Linked DNA regions of Homo sapiens: all the other regions are linked to region 1. The links come from fine-mapping of genetic effects on gene expression. A gene starts in region 1. Each other region holds a variant in brackets. All regions are shown on one strand. Distances are between the middles of the regions.

Region 1 (5,377 bases):
GGCGTGAGCCACCACGCCCGGCCAGGAATGGGTTTCTAAGCACCAAAAACATTCTCCTGTTTTGAGGCAGTCTGTCTCTTTGCTATGCAGTTCCCAAGCACTTGTCCTAGCTTGGTTCTCACATCTGCCAATCGATACACTTGCCTCTGTAAAACATTTGCCTTACAGGGCTACTGTGAAGAACACACGTGTTCTTAGATACAAAACTATCCCATTCACTACAATGATACCAGCTTGAATTTTTTTTTTTTTTTTTTTTTTTGAGACAGAGTCTCGCTCTGTTGCCCAGGCTGGAGACGGGGTTTCACTGTGTTAGCCAGGTGTGAGCCACTGCGCCTGGCTGATACCAGCTTGAATTTTACATATACTTCCTGTGTGCCAAACACTGTGCTAGGTGCAGTATGTATATTCCTTTCTTCAACCCTCATGACAACTCCAATAATAGCATAGGTAGGTGCTATTATTATTCTACTTCACAGATGAAGAAACTTTAGTACAGAGATGCTAAATAATGTGCCCAAGTGAGAGTTGGGGTTCAGAACCAGGCATGGGTCTGTCCCCAGAATGCATGCTCTTAACCCCAAACTACTGTACATTGTATACAGATATTTTTCTGATTAGGCATTGAACCCATTGGGCAAAAAGCACAGACCAGTGAGGTGCTGACATTTTAGGGATGCATAGGGAGGATGAGTAACTGGAGTTGATCAGACCAGGCAGGGCGGTTCTGGATAGGGGAAGTGTTTGGGAAGGCAGGAAGCCTTGAGAAGGTAACCAGGGGAGAAATGAACAGATCTTGAAAGCTGATGGAAGGCCTGGGGGCAGGGGACCCACCTACTCACCAGCCAGGGCCTGCAGGCTGGGGAAGCCATGGTAGGTGACATCATCAAGCTGGATGAGCCGAGGTCCAAAAGCCTGGCACAGCCGCTCCACCATGCCAGTGATGCGGGCGATGTTGTTGTTGGAGGAACAGATAAAAGAGAAAAGGCATTCGATGGGGTCTTGTCGCAGCAGTCGCACACCTGGAGACCAGAAATGCAGGGGGTAGGAGAGGTACCTGCTGTTGGGTGTGGCCTCTTCCCACCCACAGGTCAGATCCTAGGTACCAAAACTCCAGGAGGATCCCAGGAGAATGAGAGTCAGCACCGTTAGAGAAAGCAACACCAGACCTCTCATTCCTCATAGCATCTTGTGAGGGCTGAGTTACCATCCCATTCCACAGATAAAGAGGCCACAATGTAAGCTCCATGAGGACTGGCATTTGGGTCTGTTTTGTTCACTGGTGTATCCCCGGTCACACAGCAGATGCTTTGTATATATTTACAGAATGAATGAAATCACTTGCCCTAGGTCACACAACCAGGAATGGGCTCAAAATCCTTGTCACTTCACTATGGTGATTAGCAGGATAATAATAATGGTAATAATACTTACTATGTGCCTGGCATTATTCTAAGCACTTTACATGTATTAGTTCCTTAAATCCTCATAAAAGCCTATGAAGTAGATATAATCCCCATTTTACAGGTGGCAAAACTGAGTCATAGAGAAGTGACTTATGTCCAAGAACCCTAACCCCAGCCCAGGTCCTGTACTCACCTTGGAATTTCTGAGCCACCTCTTGGAAGTGGGAGTCCACGGAACCCCAGTGGTGATACAGTTGAGCCAGGGTAACATCTAGCTGGAAGTACTTGCGCACGGCCTCCAGCTCGTCTGGTGTGGGCCTGCTAGCCTGGCTCTTGTCTCCTCGGTACACAGTGCAGTGGAGCTGCTCCTCAGTCTGAGTCAGTGTCCATACTTGATCCGCTAGTACACCACTCCAGTGTGCAGGACTTTGCTCCCTCCACCTGAGCCCAAGGCACATGACAACCCTGGCACTCAATTTCCTTTCTTGCACCCTTTGGGGTCCCTCCTATCCTACAATAGCTCCATGTACGAAACTAATACAAGTAACAGTGCTATCTTCCAGTCTGAGCAACATGGCGAAACCTCACCTCTACAAAAAATACAAAAATTTAACCGGGCATGGCGCACACCTGTAGTCCCAGCTACTCGGGAGGCTGCGCCCGGGGGGTCGAGGCTGGAATGGGCCTCTCTGCATTCCTACCTGGGCAACAGAGCGAGACCCTGTCTCAAAAAAAGAAAAACAAGTGCTATTATCTTCTGCATCGGTTATACCGCTGGATCCTTACAATTATCACTGTACAGACATATTAAAGGTAACAGGTTGGCTACCCGTGCTTGTTTCCTCTTTTGTACCCCGGGTTTCTTCCATCATCCCCCAAATTCCTTTGTACCCCATGCCAGGCAGTGTTGAGGCGGCAGGAGCCAGTCCGAGGGGACAGGCTTCTCAGGCTCAGTCACTCACCGGAAAGATTGTCCAGAAGGCAGAACCAGGTCCAGGCGCAGCTCAGAGCGAGGGCACGGGATGGAGGCCCACAGGGCAGGAGTGGAGGCTAGAGTACGATGCCCCATGCGCCTGGGCAGAAGCGCGCGGGCAGGCATTTCCACAGCAGGCACCGCCCCGTAGTAGCCCCGCCTACCCAGAACCAGGCCTCGTCGACGCCCAAAGACCCCGCCCAGACAAGGACCACGACCCTTAAGGCCTCGCCCACACGGTGCTGTTTAACAACCTTCCCTGTTTCACTTAATTCCTCCACCTCCTGCATGCCTCGCCCTTTGCGGGTCATCAAAGCCCCGCTTCGTGCCCCAATTCTCCGGCTTTCCTGAGGTGTAGGTCCCGCCCCCTCCTTGCGACTTATCTTCTCCCGCCCCCAGAGCCTGTGGGCGCGCACAGCTGTGTTCTTCTGGGTTCTCCAGGGGCAGACCACAGCACCACCGGAAGTAGGGCTCAACCACCGCTCATTTCACCTAGAGGTAGCCAATCCGAGGAGGAGGTAGGAGGCGCCAATGAGAAATCAGGGTGGGCGGGCCGTTCTGAGGCGCTCGCGCGGTTGGCCGGCACTGGGCTCTCTGCCAGCTGCTCGCCTTTCCCCCTCCGGGATTGTCTGCACTCGGGGCGCTAACGAGTTCCATCTGGGCGCCCCGCGGTTCCTCAGGGCTGTCCGTCTTCAGAGCCACGTCCTTCCCCAGCCCGTTCTCCGAGAGCCGTTCTCCCCCGAGCCTTTGCAGTCTTAGGCGTTCGCCCTCCTTGGGCCGCCTCCCACGAACCCTGTCTTCACCAAGAACCGGAGCGAACACAGCTCCGGCCCCAGAGCCCTCGGGAAGTGTCTCCAGAGTATTATTCTCTTCTGCGCCCGCCCGCTAAGCTTGTCCCATTCAAGGCCTTTAGGCGTCCTCTGAGACCTCAGGACATCAGAGGCCTCTCCTCGGATTGTCGTCCCGCCGGCCGCCACAGCTGCTGCCTGCCGTCTTGGGCATTTCTTCCATACTCCATCTGCTCATGCTTTCCTCGGAATGGGACGTTTGCCGGGGGTTTGTCTGGGGCTGGGCCCAGAAGCCCATCAGGTTGAGTCCAAGTCCCAGTGTGTGGCCCTGAGGCAGCCTGCCTTCTAGTCGCCTGGAGTAGGAGGATGGATTATTTAATTTCTTCCCTTCTGGAGGATGGCATGAAAAAGCAGGGAGCTAGGAGACATGACCTTTATCTGGGCCATTCTCACCTTTTAGCATAGGGATTTGGGGTTGCTGTATCTTAACTATCAGGCTGCAAGTTTTTTTTCTTTGAGACGGAGTCTCACTCTGTCGCCTAGGCTGGAGTGTGATGGCGCGATCTCGGCTCACTGCAAGCTCCGCCTCCCGGGTTCAAGCGATTCTCCTGCCTCAGCCTCCCGAGTAGCTGGGACTACAGGTGCGCGCCACCACGCCCAGCTAATTTTTGTATTTTTAGTAGAGATGGGGTTTCACCATGTTGGCTAGCATGGTCTCGATCTCTTGACCTCGTGATCCAGCCGCCTCGGCCTCTTAAAGTGTTGGGATTACAGGCGTGAGCCACCGCACCCCGCCCAGACTGCAAATTCTTGAAGAGCAACATCTGCAGCGGATTGACCCTTGTGTCCCAGCCAGAGACCTAGCGGAGTGTACCGTCAGCATGGAATCAACATCAGACCAGTGCCATCATTGTCTCAGTGCCAGTCCTCAGTGGCTGCAAGGCCTGGGCCGCCCCTTCTTCCTGTGACTGTTCCTATCTGTAGGCATGCCATCCCACAGGCGCCTAGCACTTGGAAGGCATTCCTTCAATAAATGTCGGTGGAGTCTGGAAAGAAGGTGCTGAGGTTGGGGGTGAGCAAAGAGCAACCGTCTCCATCCCAGCTCTGTCTCCGGTTAAGCAGTGGGGAAGGTCTCAGCTGTATTGATGCTGAAACACTTGGGCCATGCCACTGGCAAAGGACTTGAGGCCTCTAAGGGCCAAGTAGGAATCGATAGTTGACTCTTCCCCTGGCAGTTCAGCATACTGGTTGAAGAGCCAGGTTTGCAAACAGACCTGGGTTCCAATTCTAGCTCTGCACCTTCCTAGTTGTAGGAACTTAGGCAAGATAATTTTTTGAAACTTCAGCATCTTTGTGGAGATAACCAGTCTATTATTAAACTACCCTATAGTTATTGCAAGGATTACGCAAAGCTGAATGTCTAAAGGTGCTCAACACAGGGCCTGCCACTCACTCCATGCATGGGCAACAGGGGCTCTCTTTGCTGTGTCTTATGAAATGTAGCATGCACAGCAGTCAGCAACCACTTGGGCCCAATTATGTATCATCCCTGGGGCACAGAACCTCCCTTTGTATCCCCTTTGCCCTGGCAGGGGGCAAGAACAAAGAATTCTAAATTGACAGTTTATTTTCTAAGAATCAATATATTTTCTTCCTTTGAAATAAATACAAACCAGTTTGAAAGGTGGGGGAATCTATGGGAAAGAGAAGGGAAATGGGGACAGCCCCCAGTCTTTTTTTTTTTTTTTTTTAGTACCAAATGACTCTGGCGCGACCCGGAAACGCAGTTACAAATGAGAATAATTTAAATTCTCCGATAATTACAGTATTTACAACAGCAGGGGAGGGAGTCACCTAGTGCCCCTCTTCCAGGCTGGACAGATGCCCACTCACCTCACGACCGGTAGGGGCCCCAGGCCTCTAGGCAGTTATGGATTCTCCTGGCATGAGCAGGTAGAGGTGGTGGGATGGCCTGTTTTACGCAGTGTCCTAACTTTGGCCCACCACCCCGCCCTACAATGCTGTGAGGTCTCTGGAGCTTTTTCTGACCTGTGGGCCCTCCCTCTCCTTGCGCTGAACTGCCATTGGCCCTTGGAGTGTTCTGTACAGTCCAGCTGCACTTAGGGCAGGAGGGACCTCCCCCACCCAGCTTCCCCTGAGACTGGCCCCAAGACCAGAAATGAGTCAGTGCAGAGGCCGGTGCCACTCCA
Region 2 (5,377 bases), 30 kb before region 1:
GGAGCTATTTTCGTTGTTTACCAGATGAGGAAATAAAGGCCCAGTGAAGCGAAATGCTCTGCTGAAGGTCACACAGTCAATAAACAGCAAGCTGAGACTTGAACCTGTGGTTGAATCAAAGCCTCTTTCTATAATAGTTTGTTTTCTCTGAAAGGTGAGAAGAAGAAAACACAGATGGAAGAGGCACTGAGGGAAGCAGAGGGAGAGAGAGGAAGAGAGAGAAAAGCAGGCATGTGCAGTTACAGAAGTAGTGGGCCCTAGCTGGGCCTGGTGGCTCATGCCTGTAATCCCAGCACTTTGGGAGACTGAGGTGGGAGGCTTGTTTGAGCTCAGGAGTTCGAAACTAGCCTGGGCAATGTAGTCAGACCCCCTTCTCTACTAAAAATTTTTAAAAATCAGCTAGGCATGGTGGCACATGCCTATAGTCCTACTCAGGAGGCTGATGTGGGAGGATTGCTTGATCCTGGGAGGTAGAGGCTGCAGTGAGCTTGATCAGGCCACTGTACTCCAGCCTGGGTGACAGAGTGAGACCTGTCTCAAAAAAAAAAAAAAAAAAAAAAAAAGAAGTAATGGGCAATGAAGAAATGGCTTGCAGCTCTCAGGAAACCAGAGCACAGCCCTTACCCTGCTGCAGAGCAGCTGCAAGGCCTTAAGCAGCCCCTGACCTGAGCATCTCCTTCCCCTTCTGGAAAACTGGCAGGCTGGACTCAATCACTAAGTGACCTTCCAGCTCCACCATCGATGAAATGTATAAATCAGACCCTGTTCAGAGAGATTGATCTGGTGTCTCACCCACCTCCTGTCAGCCTCAGGCTGCCTAGACCTTAGGGGGCTCTGGAATGCAGATGCCGACGTAAGCAGGCCTTCTGCTGGCACCGGAACACCTGAAACAACAGTGTTTAAAAACAAGAGTTTGGCCCCAGCCTGCTCCAGATCTCCCCCTCACTAACTGTGGGATCCTGGGATCATCTTTGAGCCTCATTTTCCTCACGGGTAACATATGAATAATAGTACATATTTTGCAGGGTTGTTAGGATTAACTGAAAGACAGAGAGAGAGAGTGGGTGTGCCTGTGTGTGTGTGTTTGTGTGTGTGTATGTATATATATATATATTTTAGAGACAGGGTCTTACTCTGTTGCCGAGGTTGGTCTCAACTCCTGGCTTCAAGTGATCTTCCTGCCTCCATCTCCCAAAGCGCTGGGATTACAGGCATGAGCTACTTTGCCCAGCCTACTGTGTATATTTTTAAGACCTTTTTTTTTTTGAAGACACAGTCACGCTCTGTTGCCCAGACTGGAGTGTAGTGGCATGATCATAGTTCACTGTAACCTTGAACTCCTGGCCTCAAGCAATCCTCAGCTCCCTTGGAGTTGGGACTACAGGTGTGCACTACCACACCCAGCTAATTTTTTAAATTTTTTGTAGAGACAGTCTCACTATGTTGCTCAGACTGGTCTCGAACTCCTGGGCTCAAGTGATCCTTCTGCCTTGGGCTCCCAAAGTGCTGGGACTGCAGATGTGAACCCCCATGTGCAGCCAAGACTTTATTCTTCTAGAGCAGTTTTAAGTTCACAACAAAATTGAGAGAAAGGTACAGAGAATTCCCGTATCTCCCTGTCCCCACATGTGCACAGCCTCCCCCGTGATCAACATGAGTTAATATTTTTCAGGAGCTTAAGATAGTGCCATGTAAGTGTAGGTCAGTAACTGCTTTTTGGTCACGACTGTATGACACAATCCACAGGCATGCCAGCCTGGGCTGGTGGGTAGGCTCGGTCTTGAAGAGGGAGGGGTTGTTCTCTGGAGGTGGGCTGACCCTGGCACCTGGCTGGCTGGTCCCCACAGGCTGGCAAAGGAGGAGGTGAGCCGGCAGGAGCTGAGGCAGCGGGTGCGCATGGCTGACAACGAGGTCATGGACGCCTTTCGCAAGATCATGGCTGCCCGGCAGAAGAAGCGGACTCCCACCAAGAAAGAAAAGGACCAGGCCTGGAAGACTCTGAAGGAGCGTGAGAGCATCCTGAAGCTGCTGGATGGGTAGCCCTCACCCCTGCCTCAGGCTGATTATCTGGCCTAGGGGAGGGGAAGGGAGGCCCACTTCCTTCTTTGGGCACAGGAAACATTGGCCTGTGGCTGTCCCTCAAATGGCGGCAGTCTCTAGAGGGCCGTGGCCCTTCCCCTGAGGTCTTTTGGCCTAGCTCTGTACAACCAGGACACAGGAAGCCCTGCTGGGCTAGCCTGAGGCCTAGTCTCTGCTTGGTCCCCGAGATGGGGTTGGAGGGGACTTCGTTTCTGGGTCTTCCTCTTCCCCTCTTTA[C/T]CATCCCCCACTCCCTAATCCCCTACCCCTGTCTCCCCTTCAAGGACTTCTCCCTTGTGGTTTTGTAAAGTGCAAACTTAAGAATAAAGTGACTGCTGTGGTTTTTCAAAAAAAGCATCCAGTCTTTGAATGTCTGTTACAGTGGGGAGGAAGGAACCAGTGTGGGTGGTAAGGTTTGTGGGGGGTATGCTTGGTGGCTCTCAGCCCATGGCCACTAACCCATGGCATTCAGTCAGGGAGAACTTTCTGAGTACCTCTTTCTGAGGATACTTGTGGCTGCACGTAACAATGCCCCCCCAGCTCAAAGTGGATTCACAGTAAGGAAATGTGTTGGCTGCAGGATGGGCAGTCCTGGGACAGAGTGGCCTTCACGGTTAGCCAATCTAGCAATTCTTCAGGGTCATCAAGGGTCCAGGTTTCTTTTTTTTTTAATTTAAGTTCTAGGGTACATGTGTACAACGTGCAGGTTTGTTACATATGTATACATGTGCCATGTTGGTGTGCTGCACCCATTAACTCGTCATTTACATTAGGTATATCTCCTAATGCTTTCCCTCCCCCCTCCCCCAAGGGTCCAGGTTTCTTAGGGGTCACCACACTGCCCTCCACAGTGTCGACCTCTGCCTAAGGTGAGTCCTTCTCTGGCTGTAGTGTGGCAGTGGAGCAGTTGGGGCCAGATGCTTCCTCATTTACATCCAGCACAGGAGGGAGCCGGAGCCAGCGGGCTTCCATGGCCCATCTACAGAAGCAAGAAGCCTTTTCCCAGATACCATCATGTTTCAGTGGCCCAAACTCAGTCTCACATGCCCATTCCTCAGTCACTGTGGCAAAGGAGACTGTAATGGCTTTATGCCAGTCAGAGTGGAGTTTGCTACTCCATCAAGGTGGTGGAGAGAGAGTAAAACCCAACAAGATCTGAGTAGGAAACAGGGAAGTGAGTGCTAGATAGACCACCGACAACGTCTCTTCCACAGCTGGGGCAGGAAGCTTGGCCTAAGGGACACAGATGAATAAATATGCTCTGGTACCTGCCTCAAGTTGTTCCCAGACTGGTCTGAGAGAATCAGGGAATAATTTGCAATTTACTGTGGGAAGGTTGAGGTCCACGCAGGAGAGAAGGGAGGGTAAGATTCCCTAAGGAAGTGACCTATGAACTGAGCCATAAAGAAGGAGGGCGAACATGGCCAACATTCTCGTATACCCAGCACCTCTCTGTTGGAGAAATGTTCCTTCCCCATCACACATGGTTCTTGTCCAACTGCCAAACTAGGGTGCACACATGACCCCAGCTTGGCCAGTCAAGTGCCAATCCCTCTAGCCACAATGATTAGTCCCAGAAGCAGGCATGTAACCCAAGCTGGGTCACTCGAGGCCCTCCATAAGATTGCTCTGTGGATGCTGAGAGGAGAGTTCCACTTCTTGTTGGACCATAAGCCATAGACTATAAACTCAGTCTACCCCAGTGACCTGCTCTCCTCCCATGGGGAAAAACCTGCTTGAGAATAAAGCCAGCTCAGAAAAGCAGAGCCAGGAGATGGAGAAGTGCTGCATCCAGCTATTCTTGAAGCCACCGGATCCTCCCTTAGACTTCCCACATATATCAGCCCACAAAGGCTTCTTTTGGCTTAAACTAGTTTGCTTTAGAGTTTTGTGATTTGTAACTAAAAAAGGCCTATTACAAGTGAATTTTGGCAAAAAGAAAGATGAAGTAGGATCCTGAGAGAGAGGACAGCATGAGGCCCTGCCTCCCACTAGGTGCTGGGCCAAGCTGCTGCAATTTCTCAGTGACTCATTGTCCCCAGGTTGCTCACAGCCTTCTCAGAGAGAAAAGACACCCACACATGCAATGATGAGAAACCAACTCTAATCATAATGATAATGCAATGAAGGGCTCAGTAAATGTTAGTATGCACCAGGCATTGTTCTGAACTCATTCAACTACCTAATATTATGGGGTAGGTATCAGCTACCCCATAATAACATCCCATTTACAGATGAGGAAACTGAGGCTTAGGAGGTTACATACCTTGCTTTGTCAAGCAATTGAGTGGTTGAGCCAACATTCAAACTCAGGCCATTTGGCTTACAGAGAGAGCCTCTTCATTACAACTCACTGGGGCCCCACTCCCATTACAGTGTATGTGAATGGTACTCCCTATACTTGGGCAGTGCCCAACCTGTGCAGCCATATATGGCAGCTCTGCTTGAAGACCCCCCTCCTCTTAACCACTCACTTCCATGTTCACTGGGCCACACCATAAGTATGGTGGGCGTTGTTGGTAGAGAGTTCCAAGAACAGAGACAGTTTTGTGGAGGAGGTGGGATGAGAGCTGACATCCCAAAATTGGATGGAATTGTGAAAGAAGGAAGACAGATATAAATAGAAAGAAGAACCCTAGAAGACCGACTGGGCCTGGTTCACCAGAGAAGAAACTTAACTTTCAAGGATCAGTCATGAGCACTCTAGCTGTTCTCTGTTGCATACCTACTATCTGCCTGGCACTGTGCCAGGCCCTTTACCCACCCCTCCTATCTGATGCTTACCATGCACCTCCAAGGAGAGTAATATTCCAGCCTGCAGATGACACAGAGACTCAAAGAGATGCTGTGCCTTGCTGAGGCCATGCAGCCTTGATGCAGGAATAGTTGCTGCCCCCAGGTAGCACCATCCCTGGCAGAGTTCTTACAATCATATCAGTGTCTGCTGGAGCCAAAAGATGCCTCCTTTATGAGTGTGGAGGAAGCTGGGTTGTCATGAGGAGGGCGGATTAGTTCCAGTACCTCAAGTCTCCAAATTTAATTCAAAACAATTCTGATTCCTTATCACTAGTTTGGAGGCAAAGCCTTTTGTGTCTTGGCCCTAGAAAGCATCTGTCTTGCACATCATGGTCTCCCCAGAGTTCCAAATGCCTTACAGCTGACTTTCAGCAACACCAGGGTGAGTGAGAACGGGGAGGGTGAGCTCTGACCCACAGTGGGTCCCCAGCCCCTGTCTGCTCCTGAGTACTCTGGGCACCAAGTGCTCTGGGTCCCAGTTGGCTCCTGCTGAAAAGAAAGTGAT
Region 3 (5,377 bases), 77 kb before region 1:
ACTCATTTAATTCTCACAACTCATAGTACCTAACTTTGTGAGTTAGGTACTATTTTTATTCTTACGGACAAGGAGACCTAGGGGTTAGGAACTTGTCCAAAGTCACATAGCTTGTTGTCACTGAACAGGAATTTGAACCCAAGGAGATTCCAGAATCTCTGCTCTTATGGCTATGCTATATGCCTCTCTAGAAATATTATCCTCATACATGAATTCATTTTATTCTCCCATTCCCATGAGAAAGATGGTAATAATATCCCCATTTCAAAGATCAGGAAACTGAGGCTCAAGGAAGTGAGGTCACCTTAGCAGGACCAGGACTTGAATCTGGGTCTTAAACTGGGTCTGACTGCAGAGTCCTATGCTCCACTGCAGGGCTGCCTGGAAGAGGGTGCAGACTCTCTGGGGTCCTGCCTGGGCCCAACCTCCTCACCTGCTTATAGATGAGCTCAAAGGCTCCTGTGTCACAGTTGCGGTCCAGCATCCGGTCAATGACCACGCGCAGGGTGTCAGCTTGCACGCCAGCACAGAGCCGGGCAGTGACTGCTGTGGAGGGTGCCATCGTGGGGCTGGCGTTGATCTCAATCAGCCAGGGCTGGAAGTCCTCCCCGAACACGAAGTCAGCGCCATAGAGCTCAAAGCTGGCCTTCCGACACTGCACGGTGTCCTGGGAGGTCTGAAGTGCGTGGATCACAGCATCCTTCATGCCAGGCACGATGATGGTGGACCAAGCATTTGGGGCACCCATCTCCTGCAGGTGGGCCTGGAACCTCTGGCTAGACCACATGTTGTCTGGCGGAAGCAGTGGATGCCGATGGCATGAGTTCTCCAGGTGCTTCTGGATGGAGTTGTTGCACAGGTGCACTGAGCTGGGGCAGAGAACAGAAAACTGAGGTCCAGGCCCTTGTGTCTCTCCCATCCAAACTCAGGGAGGACAGGCAAGTCCTGGAAGCAGCCCTGGGCCACCCTGCACTATTCAACTTGAGATGGGGCCCTACTGGGAAGGACAAAAAGGACAGAGGCCTGGGCCCCACCACATTCTTCTAGGGCCAGAACCACTCTTATCTCTCAGGGCTGCTCTGAGGGCGCTAGTTACGGGGGCCGCAGTAGTAAGTGCTTTGTGCATAGTCTCAGTTAACCATCCCAGTGTCTGGAAGATAAGAGGGTGGGTAAGGGTATGGCCCCGTCATCGCCAGGACGTGTTCAAGCGCCATCTCCACACTAGTTGTGAGACCTTAGGGAAGTCATCTAACCTGTGTGCTCTTCACATCTGCAAAATGGGGGTAGTAACAGTACCCACTTCACTGTTTTTTATATTTTTCTTCAGACCTGGTGAACAAGAAGTATGCACTGGGTTCTTATTAAGAATGAGATCATGTATACAAAGTGCTCAGCACTATCACATATGAAGCACTCAATAATTGATAGCTATGAATTTCATACTACTGCCTCCATTCTTCAGATGTGGAAACCAAGGCTTAAATAGGTTTTCACATGACCAGATTCAAACAACTTGGAAGCTGCAGAGACAGAATTGGAATTCAGGCTTTAACAAGGCTTTCTCTCACCCTAGAAGTTAACACGACATCTTAGTTTTCAAAACTCCTGACCTCCTTTCCCCTGCTCTACATTTGCTTCCCTTTTTCCCCCAACGACAAATATAATCTTTTTTTTTTTTTTTTTTTTTGAGACAGATCCTTGATCTGTCACCCAGGCTGGAGTGCAATGGCACGATCTCAGTTCACTGCAACCTCCACCTCCCAGGTTCAAGCAATTCTCCTGTCACGGCCTCCCGAGTAGCTGGGACTACTGGCGCCCGCCAACACGCCCGGCTAATTTTTATATTTTTAGTAGAGACGGGGTTTCGCTATATTGGTCAGGCTGGTCTCGAACTCCTGACCTCAGGTGATCCACCCACCTCGGCCTCCCAAAGTGCTTGGATTACAGGCATGAGCCACTGCGCCTGGCCCAAATAATCTTTTAACCTGTTAGATAATTTCACTTGTGTTCTTGCTTGCCTGTTTCTCCCTGCTAGAATGTAAGCCCTTGAGAGCTGGGATCTTGTTTTGTTCACTGCTATACCCCAAGTGCCCAGAACAGTGCATGGCACAAGGTACACACTCGGTCAAATCTGTTGGAGGGGCCAGGCATAGTGTAATCCCAGCACTTTGGGAAGCCAAGGTGGGATGATCGCTTGAGCCCAGGAGTTTGAGACCAACCTGGGCAACATAGTGAGACCCCATGTCTACATTAAAAAACTTAAAAATCAGCTGTGGTACATGCCTGTGGTCTCAGACACTTGGGAGGCTGAGGAGGAAGGATTGCTTGAGCACAGGAAGTCAAGGCTACAGTGAGCCGTGACCATGCCACTGCACTCCAGCCTAGGTAACAGAGTGAGACCGCCCCCTGTCTGTTAAAAAAAAATCTGTTG[G/A]ATGCAAGGACAGCTGGCAGGATGAGGGCCTGCCTGCCTGCAGTCTGTGTGTGGAGCCTAGCGCTGCTGCGCGAGTCCCCTGCACTGTAATCGCCTGTTTGCTTGCCAGCTCCCCAACTAGGCAGGGAGCTCGTGGGAGGCGAGCAGAGGGGCTCACTTGTCCAGGTTCTTCAGGGAGAAGGGCTGCGTGGAAAAGCGGATATAGCTGTCGCGGTAGAACCACACGGTAAGTGGGTTCCAGTCAGTTACCAGGAACCACTGTCTGAGGTCAAACTTGGTGCCAAAGATGAGGAGGGGCCGCTCAATATACTTCTGCACCACCCACTTGCCGTCCTTCATCACCACGGGGTTGCCGTTCACCAGCTTCAGCATCTCCTCCAGGTGGTCCATGCACATGATGCCTACGGGGGAAGAGGGCAGTCAGGGATTGGAAGGTCAGGCGTGGGCCAGGAGAAGGGCCAGCTTGTCATGAGCTCTTGTCCCCTCGGAGCTGATAGGGCTGAGTGGGTAAGGCTGTCTCCCTCAATCAGAACCCAGTTCCCTTTGGGAAAGCCAGGAATTTGCTAAGGATTTTAAATTTTTCCTAATTAACCAGTTTTGTTTGATTAAACAGGAATACATACATGGATACAAATTTAAAGTGCTGGACTTTTTTTTTTTTTTTTTTTTTTTGAGACAGCCCTGTCACCTAGGCTGGAGTGCAGTGGCACGAGCTCAGCTCACTGCAACCTCCGCCTCCCGGGTTCAAGTGATTCTCCTGCCTCAGCCTCCCGAGTAGCTGGGATTATGGGTGCCTGCCACCACACGTGGCCAATTTTTGTATTTTTAGTAGAGACAGGGTTTCACCATGTTGGCCAGGCTGGTCTCCAACTCCTGACCTCAAGTGATCCACCCGCCTCGGCCTCCCAGACTGCTGGGATTACAAGCATGAGCCACTGTACCTGGCCAGTGTTGGGGGCTTTTTTAAAGTATGTGCACCTATTACGTTCCTACCAATAATAAATAGACTATAAAACAAAACAAAAATTAGGCAGTACGAAAGGGCATACAATAAAAAATGTATCTCCTTGTCTAGAGGCAGCCAACTGCTGCTTCCAGGACCTTATGGATATCCTTCTGGATCATGTGAAAGCCTACACGTGCCTCCGTTTCCCAGGATTGCATAAATTGAAGCACGTTGAGGATTTGGAATAGTGCTTTAGCTGCATGACTGCATTTAATCCTCACCTCACAGGAGGTATTATCATCCTCCTCATGTCACAGATGAGGGAACTGAGGTTCAGGGAGGCGCTAAAACCTGCTCAAGGTCACGAAGCACATTAGTAGCAGAGCTAGGACTCAAACCCAGGCAATTTGGCTTCAATAGACCTGCACTATTAACTTCCTTGGCCTCTACTGGTAGATGCAGGTGGTGAGGTGCCAGTGCAGGAAGCAGGAGCTGACCCCCACCTCGTCCGCGGGACTTGGCTCCTGGCTTCACGATCCAGATGTTGCGATCCCCTTCCATGTCTATCTGGGGTACCACGGCCTGCAGCTGCTGCAGGATGTCCTCACAGCGCTGGACCTGAGTGTCGAGGTGCCTGAGTTCTGCCCCTTCGCTGTGGGGAAATGATAGAACTTGGGCAGGGCTGGACCTGGGACATGCAGGTGGAGAGGGCAGGGGGAGATATATTCCACCATCCCCCGCCGTCATCCAGGCAGCCTTGGTCACGCCCTCCCTGCAGATATCCATAGGTCCCTCCCAAGCCTCCGGCCCCACCTTCAAGCCACCCCGGAAATCCTAACCTGCCCAGACTACACAAATGGGAAAGGCTGATAAAATTCCATTAACTGCAAACCACCCCCTACTCCAACACTCCACCTGTGCCACCCCCTTCCTATTACATTAAAACTGTCTTTGACAGAATTTAATCATTCCAGTTCCTAATGATAAAGCACCACTATGTGCCAGGCATTGTGACAAGGGCTTTCCATATATTTTCACGAATGCCCTCAAGGCCCTGCCAGGGAAGTATTACTAGTACCCACCCCCTACCCCCCGACTTTTTTTTTTTTTTTTTGAGACAGGGTCTTGGTCTGTCACCCAGGCTGAAGTGCAGTGGTGAAATCACGGCTCAGTGCAGCCAGGAACTCCTAGGTCCAAGTTTCAGCCTCCCAAGTAGTTGGAATTACAGGCATACGCCACCACACCCAAGCTAATTTTTATTTTTTGCAGAGATGGGTCTTATTATGTTACCCAGGCTAGTCTTGAACTCCTGGCCTCAGGCCATCCTCCTGTTCAGCCTCCCAAAATGCTGGGATTGCAGGCATGAGCTACCACACCCAGCTCTGGTCCCATTTTAGAGAAATGTAAACTGGGCCAGGCACGGTGGCTCCTGCCTGTAATCCCAGCACTTTGGGAGGCGGAGGCAGGCGGATCACCTGAGGTCAGGAGTTCGAGAACAGCCTGGCCAACATGGCAAAACCTTGTTTCTACTAAAAATACAAAAATTAGCCAGGCATGGTGGCAGGTGCCTGTAATCCCAGCTACTTGGGAGACTGAGGCAGGACAATCACTTGAACCAGGGAGGCGGAGGTTGCAGTGAGCCGAGATCGTACCACTGCACTCCAGCCTGGGCGACAGAGCAAGATTCCGTCTCAAAAAAAAAAAAAAAAAAAAAGAAAAGAAAAGAAAAGAAAAAGTAAACTGGGACGGGCATAGTGGCTCACGCTTGTAATCCCAGCACTTTGGGAGGGCAAGGTGGGCGGATCACAAGGTTAAGAGATTGAGACCATCCTGGCCAATATGGTGAAACCCCATCTCTCCTAAAAATACAAAAATTAGCCGGGTGTGGTGGTGGGCACCTGTAATCCCAGCTACTCAGGAGGTTGAGGCAGGAGAATCACTTCAAGCCAGGAGGCGGAGGTTGTAGTGAGCCGAGATCGCGCCATTGCACTCCAGTGTGG
Region 4 (5,377 bases), 89 kb after region 1:
AAAAAAAAAAAAAAAAAAGAGAGAGACTCCATCTCAAAAAAAAAAAAGTTGCAATAACTTTCGGGAACATGAAAACTTTCCAAAGTGGCAACAGCTTTAAGAAGATCAATTTCTAGGACCTAACTTCCATACATACTTTTCCCTAAAACTGATCTGAAGAAGAAAGCTTTTGGCAGAGTCTCCCTTCCTTCCTCCTCTTTCCCAATTTACAAAAAAGGCACACCAGGGACTGAGACAACAGTCAGACTCTCCCCATTGCCCTGCCCTTGACCACTGAGACACTCAGATACCAGCTAAAGGAATGAATAGACTGAATTCCGCTCCCTTCCCCTCTGAGGCTCTCTGTATGTCAGTCCACTCTTCTTGGACCAATTTTCGCACCGTTGCTACTTGCATTCGGAATTTCCCCGCTCAAACGTCACAATGGCTCTCCTAGCAAACACAGAGCCACCTCCCTGCTCAGCGTTCAGCCGTCTTCATTCAATCCCCTCCATCCTCTGCCCTGATGTGTACCCTCTACTTAGGGAAGTTACTTAGTCACTCTCAGCCTCTGTTTCATCTGCAATGAAATGGGCACATCCCGTACACCAAAAGATAGATAAAAATGAAACCAAACTGGGGAGCCAAATTAAATTAACAAAAGTCCTTAGAATATAAGCTCCATGACAATAAAGATTTTTGTCTGCTTTACATGGTGATGTATTTTAAGGCCTGAAGCAGTGTCTGGCACATAATATACAATAAATACTTGGTGAATTATATAATTGAAAGAATGGAAAAACAATATAGGAACTCATTTGATTTAATCTAATCCACAAACCTTTGAAATAGGTGATTATTATTCTTAATTTATAGGAGAGGAAAAGGAGGCTCTGCATAGGCAGGAAATAAGAGTCAGGATCTGAACCTAGGCAGTCTGGCTCTGGAACACGGGGTGGGGTATGCTGGTGTGACCATCCCTTCTCTACCTAGAACCATCCTTCAGTCAGAATTGGTCTGTTTCTCTGGACTGCTTCCCACAACACCCAGTAACCACCCAATGCTTGGCTACTAATGTTGAGGGAAAAAAAGACCCTATACTTTGCAGTAAGTCAGCTACCCCAGAAGAGAGTCGTGGAGCATGAAGCTATGGTATGGGCCTTACCTTGCCCTTGAACAGGATTACTGGGCAGACAAACCGTCCTCTGCACCGGGCCATCTTGCTGCGGTGGATGAGGTCTTGCAACTTGCTCACCTGTACGGTACTCTCAAACCTAACACACAGGCAAGAGAAGCAGGTCAAGCTGACTTTGAAGTGGGCACTTTGTGTATATGTGTTTATTCACACAGACCCCCATACTAGATCTGTGTACATAATGCTTGCTTGAAATTAAATGTCATTCCTAAATTTTATATCATCTATCATCTGTCTGTCTATCTATCTATTTTTTTGAGACGGAGTTTCACTGTTGTTGCCCAGGCTAGAGTGCAGTGGCGCAATCTTGGCTCACCACAGCCTCTGCCTCCCGGGTTCAAGCAATTCTCCTGTCTCAGCCTCCCGAGTATGCTGTGACTACAGGTGTGAGCCACCACACCTGGGTAATTTTTTTATTTTTGGTAGAGACGGGGTTTCACCACGTTGGCCAGGCTGGCCTCAAACTCCTGACCTCAGGCGATCCGCCCACCTCGGCCTCCCAAAGTGCCGGGATCACAGGCATGAGATATATTAAGTTTTTCAGGAAAAAAAAAAAGTGCTAATTATAGGTATTAAAACTTAAATCACTCTGATTTCTGAACCTTTAAGATAAAAAAAAAGTGAGCTAAACTGAAGACATATACAAAATTCAGAAATATACACAGAAAACTGGATATTATGTCTAGGGTGTCCAATTTTTAACTCCCAGGATAAGACCTGGTGCCCTAGGGACCCTCTCTGGAAATCACAGGACCATTTTTGTGACTATCTATTTTTTGCATAACTCTGAATATGTATTTTTGTGATCTTTTAGAGCAAGCAGTCCCCAGGCCCTGAGCCCCAGATCAGTACGAGTCCATGCCCCATTAGGAACCAGGAGGTGAGCAGCAGGCAAGTGAGCATTACCGTCTGACTTCCACCTCCTGTCAGATCATCAGTGGCGGCATTATATTCTCATAGGAGCTCGAACCCTATTGTGAACTCCGCATGTGAGGGACTGGGGTTGCAGAGAATCTAATGCCTCATGATCTGAGGTGGAACAGTTTCATCTGAAACCATTTTCTCCACCCTGCCGTGGAAAAATTGTTTTCCATGAAACCAGTCCCTGGTGCCAAAAAGGTTGGGGAGTGCTGTTTTAGAGGGCAGAATGAGATGACGTTTCTTGGTCCACATGGCTCTAGGCCTCTGCTTTCACAGTCCATATGGCCAACAGCGCACAGAGCAAAGGAGGCATAAGAGAAGCCATGTGTGACACAGGGACGTGTAGTAGTTAATGCACTGGGCTTGGTAAGTGAGCTTCTAGAACTTGAGAGTGAGGTTTAGAAGTTAGCTCCAGCAAGTCATACCCATATCAAATCACGCTTCCCTAAAATAAGGGTCCGCTCTCATAAACTCACCTACCAACCTTTAGCAAAGCTCACCCCAGCCAGTCAGAGCTTCTGGTAGCAACAGAAACAGGAGGCAGGAAAGTTAGAGCAGGAAGCTTTCCCAGCTACACAGAGTAACCAAGTAGAAGGAAGGAAAAATACTCATGTTCCTTCCTTAAAAGTGTTGAGCTTTCAGACCAACTCCTAGAGGGAATTTAATTGCTTCCACATCCTAATCCTTCTAGGAATCTGCGTACAGCTCCTCTTGTACACATGCACCCAAATATTATCCCAGAAGGAAGAAATCAGTGACTCCCACATACTTGTGGTACCTCTTTAAATGTATCTGGATGCTGTTAGGGTTAATAAAAACACAGTCTTTAAAATACTGCGAATTCTTAGTTAAAATATATCTAGGGGCCAGGCGTGGTGGCTCACACCT[G/A]TAATCCTAGCACTTTGGGAGGCCAAGGTGGGCAGATCACTTGAGGTTGGGAGTTCAAAACCAGCCTGGCCAACATGGTGAAACCCCATCTCTACTAAAAATACAAAAAAATTAGCCTGGCGTGGTGGCGCGTGCCTGTAATCCCAGCTACTCAGGAGGCTGAGGCAGGAGAACTGCTTGAACCCGGGAGGCAGAGTTTGCAGTGAGCCAACATCACGCCATTGCACTCCAGCCTGGGCGAAGGGCGAGACTCCGTCTGGGGGAAAAAAAAAAAAGCAAAGTGCCCGTAGGGTGGCAGCAACCCACCAGGCAGCCCTAGGCACACAAGCTCACAGAGAACCAGAGTGTGCTGCCTTCCCCTCACCCAGTTTCTCTATGAAATCAAAAGGCACCTTGGTACCAATTAATTGCCTAACTAGACTCCACAAGAATATAAAACCGAGCACCTTTAGTACTGCCACAGTGGCCTTCCTCCCACTTACTTGGCCCGTGGCCGATGTCACATATCTGGTCAGCACCATCTGCTGCAACCGACTCTCACTTAGCTCATACCAGCCCTCTGAACCCTAAATGCCTACATCTGATTTTCCCAGGTTGAGTTGTAGCCTCAAAACCAAGGTGGATTTCTCAGGCTAAACTTCTGTTAAAAACAAACAAACAAAACACCCCTGGTGGAGGACACATCAGCATTTTCCTCTAGGGAGGATCTTTTAATGTAATGACCCACCTTTTCTTGTTAGGTCGGCCAGTGGTTCCTTTACCGGTTCCCCTACATCAAGCTCCAATTCAGTTTCTGGCCAGGCACAGTGGCTCATGCCTGTAATCCCACACTTGGGGAGGCTCAGGCGGCAGATCACCTGAGGTCAGGAGGTAAAGACCAGCCTGGCCAACATGGTGAAACCCCGTCTATACTAAAACTACAAAAATTAGACAGGCGTGGCAGCACGCGCCTCTAATCCCAGCTACTCGGGAGGCTGAGGCAGGAGAATTGCTTGAACCCAGGAGGCGGAGGTTGCGGTGAGCAGAGATCACGCCACTGCACTCCAGCCTGGGCAACAGAATGAGACTCCGTCTTAAAAAAAAAAAAAAAAAGAACCAATTCAGTTTCTGTTCTCTCACTTTTTCCTGTTTTTATTATCTCTTGTCCTTAGGATTCTTTTATTGCAGTGCTAAGCACTGAGCTGTGTCTGGCACATAATACTCACATTCGAAGGGATGAATGTAGGCTTCTGTATTTACATTTGTAATGTATGCACTGAAATTTCTGGCAAGATGTTACCAGGTAGTGAGATTTTGTTGTTTTTTTCCCAACAAGGTCTTCCTCTGTTGCCCAGGCTGCAGTGCAGTGGCGCCATGGTTCACTGCAGCTGACCTCCTGGGCTCAGGTGATCCTCCCACCTCAGACTCCCAGGTAGCTGGGACTACAGGCACATGCCACGATGCTTGGCTAATGCTTTGTATTTTTTGTAGTGACAAGGTGTCACCATGTTGCCCAGACTGTTTAATTCAGTCTGTTTTTTATTCAGTCTATTCAGTTTAATTCAGTCTCAAACTCCTGGGTTCAAGCGAAACGCCCATCTCGGCCTCCCAAGTAACTAGGATTATAGGCGTGAGCCACCATGCCCAGCCAAACTATTTTCAAATACAGAAGAAAATGCTGTTATCACATATTTCCAATAGGAAGCTTTCCCAGACAGGCACCACACTTACCAAACTGGGTGGCTTGTTCCTATAATGTACCCCACAACTTCCTGAGATAAATGTTACTGCTGCTACTATTTAATAGATAAGAGGCACAAAGTAGAGCTTACACCCACATTATCTCACTCAGTCCTCACTTACCCAATTTTACAGATGAGGTAGTTTAATGAGATGAAATCTCTAGCCCAAAGTCACAGAACAGGTAAACAGGGTAGCTGAGATTCTAAACCCTGTGGGTAGCCACTGGGCCCATGGTTTTAACCACTATCCGGCAGGGCCTCACCTGTACTTCCCCTAATTCCAGCTTTTATTAACAATTATTGCTTCTTTATTGGACTCTGTTTCCCACTAGACCTACTGGTAAGGACTTCATCTATCTGGCTTCCAACTTGATCCCTGAGGTCTACTACACAGCAGCAGCTGAACGAACACTGTTGACAAACATGTCTTAGCTATTCAGAGATCCCTGTCCAGGCTTCTATTCCCAGATGATGAACCAAATTGGAGAGGTTCCTTAACAGGACCAAAACATTGCTTAAATCCAATTCTACCCTGTTTAATTCAGTCTATTTTTTATTCAGTCTATTCAGTTTAATTCAGCATCATAGTAACAGCCAAGCCAGACAGTAAAAAAGCAAAAAATGCTATTTCTTCCCACCCAAACATACCCGAAGTCCCCCCTTTCAACAAGCA

The links. PIP is the estimated chance that this variant, and not a neighbour inherited with it, causes the effect.
Region 2: its variant is fine-mapped to the expression of OGG1 in whole blood (TOPMed, PIP above 0.99).
Region 3: its variant is fine-mapped to the expression of OGG1 in whole blood (TOPMed, PIP above 0.99).
Region 4: its variant is fine-mapped to the expression of OGG1 in skeletal muscle (GTEx, PIP above 0.99).

The regions. Positions count from the first base shown.
Region 1 is chr3:9,747,415-9,752,791 of GRCh38, reverse strand. It overlaps OGG1 (8-oxoguanine DNA glycosylase), which reads right to left and starts at 2,840. Exons shown (of 7, transcript NM_002542.6): 1 at 2,369-2,840; 2 at 1,600-1,847; 3 at 843-1,022. The coding sequence starts at 2,505. BRPF1 (bromodomain and PHD finger containing 1) reads right to left here. Exons shown (of 14, transcript NM_001003694.2): 14 at 4,777-5,377. RefSeq lists enhancers at 3,067-3,186, 3,217-3,266.
Region 2 is chr3:9,777,020-9,782,396 of GRCh38, reverse strand. It overlaps TADA3 (transcriptional adaptor 3), which reads left to right. Exons shown (of 9, transcript NM_006354.5): 9 at 1,848-2,430. The coding sequence ends at 2,040. It also overlaps a transcript of OGG1 not described here. Among named protein-coding and RNA genes, the nearest start is that of CAMK1, 9.8 kb to the right of the region's middle. RefSeq lists an enhancer at 3,958-4,252. The variant C/T (reference allele first, on the strand shown) is at 2,317.
Region 3 is chr3:9,824,452-9,829,828 of GRCh38, reverse strand. ARPC4-TTLL3 (ARPC4-TTLL3 readthrough) reads right to left here. Exons shown (of 12, transcript NM_001198793.1): 9 at 3,881-4,029; 10 at 2,589-2,832; 11 at 434-869. It overlaps TTLL3 (tubulin tyrosine ligase like 3), which reads right to left. Exons shown (of 14, transcript NM_001387446.1): 9 at 3,881-4,029; 10 at 2,589-2,832; 11 at 434-869. Among named protein-coding and RNA genes, the nearest start is that of RPUSD3, 17 kb to the left of the region's middle. RefSeq lists silencers at 2,361-2,430, 2,441-2,510, 5,071-5,291 and enhancers at 2,144-2,644, 3,478-3,978, 3,979-4,479. The variant G/A (reference allele first, on the strand shown) is at 2,432.
Region 4 is chr3:9,658,143-9,663,519 of GRCh38, reverse strand. It overlaps MTMR14 (myotubularin related protein 14), which reads right to left. Exons shown (of 19, transcript NM_001077525.3): 3 at 1,145-1,253. Among named protein-coding and RNA genes, the nearest start is that of MTMR14, 11 kb to the right of the region's middle. The variant G/A (reference allele first, on the strand shown) is at 2,984.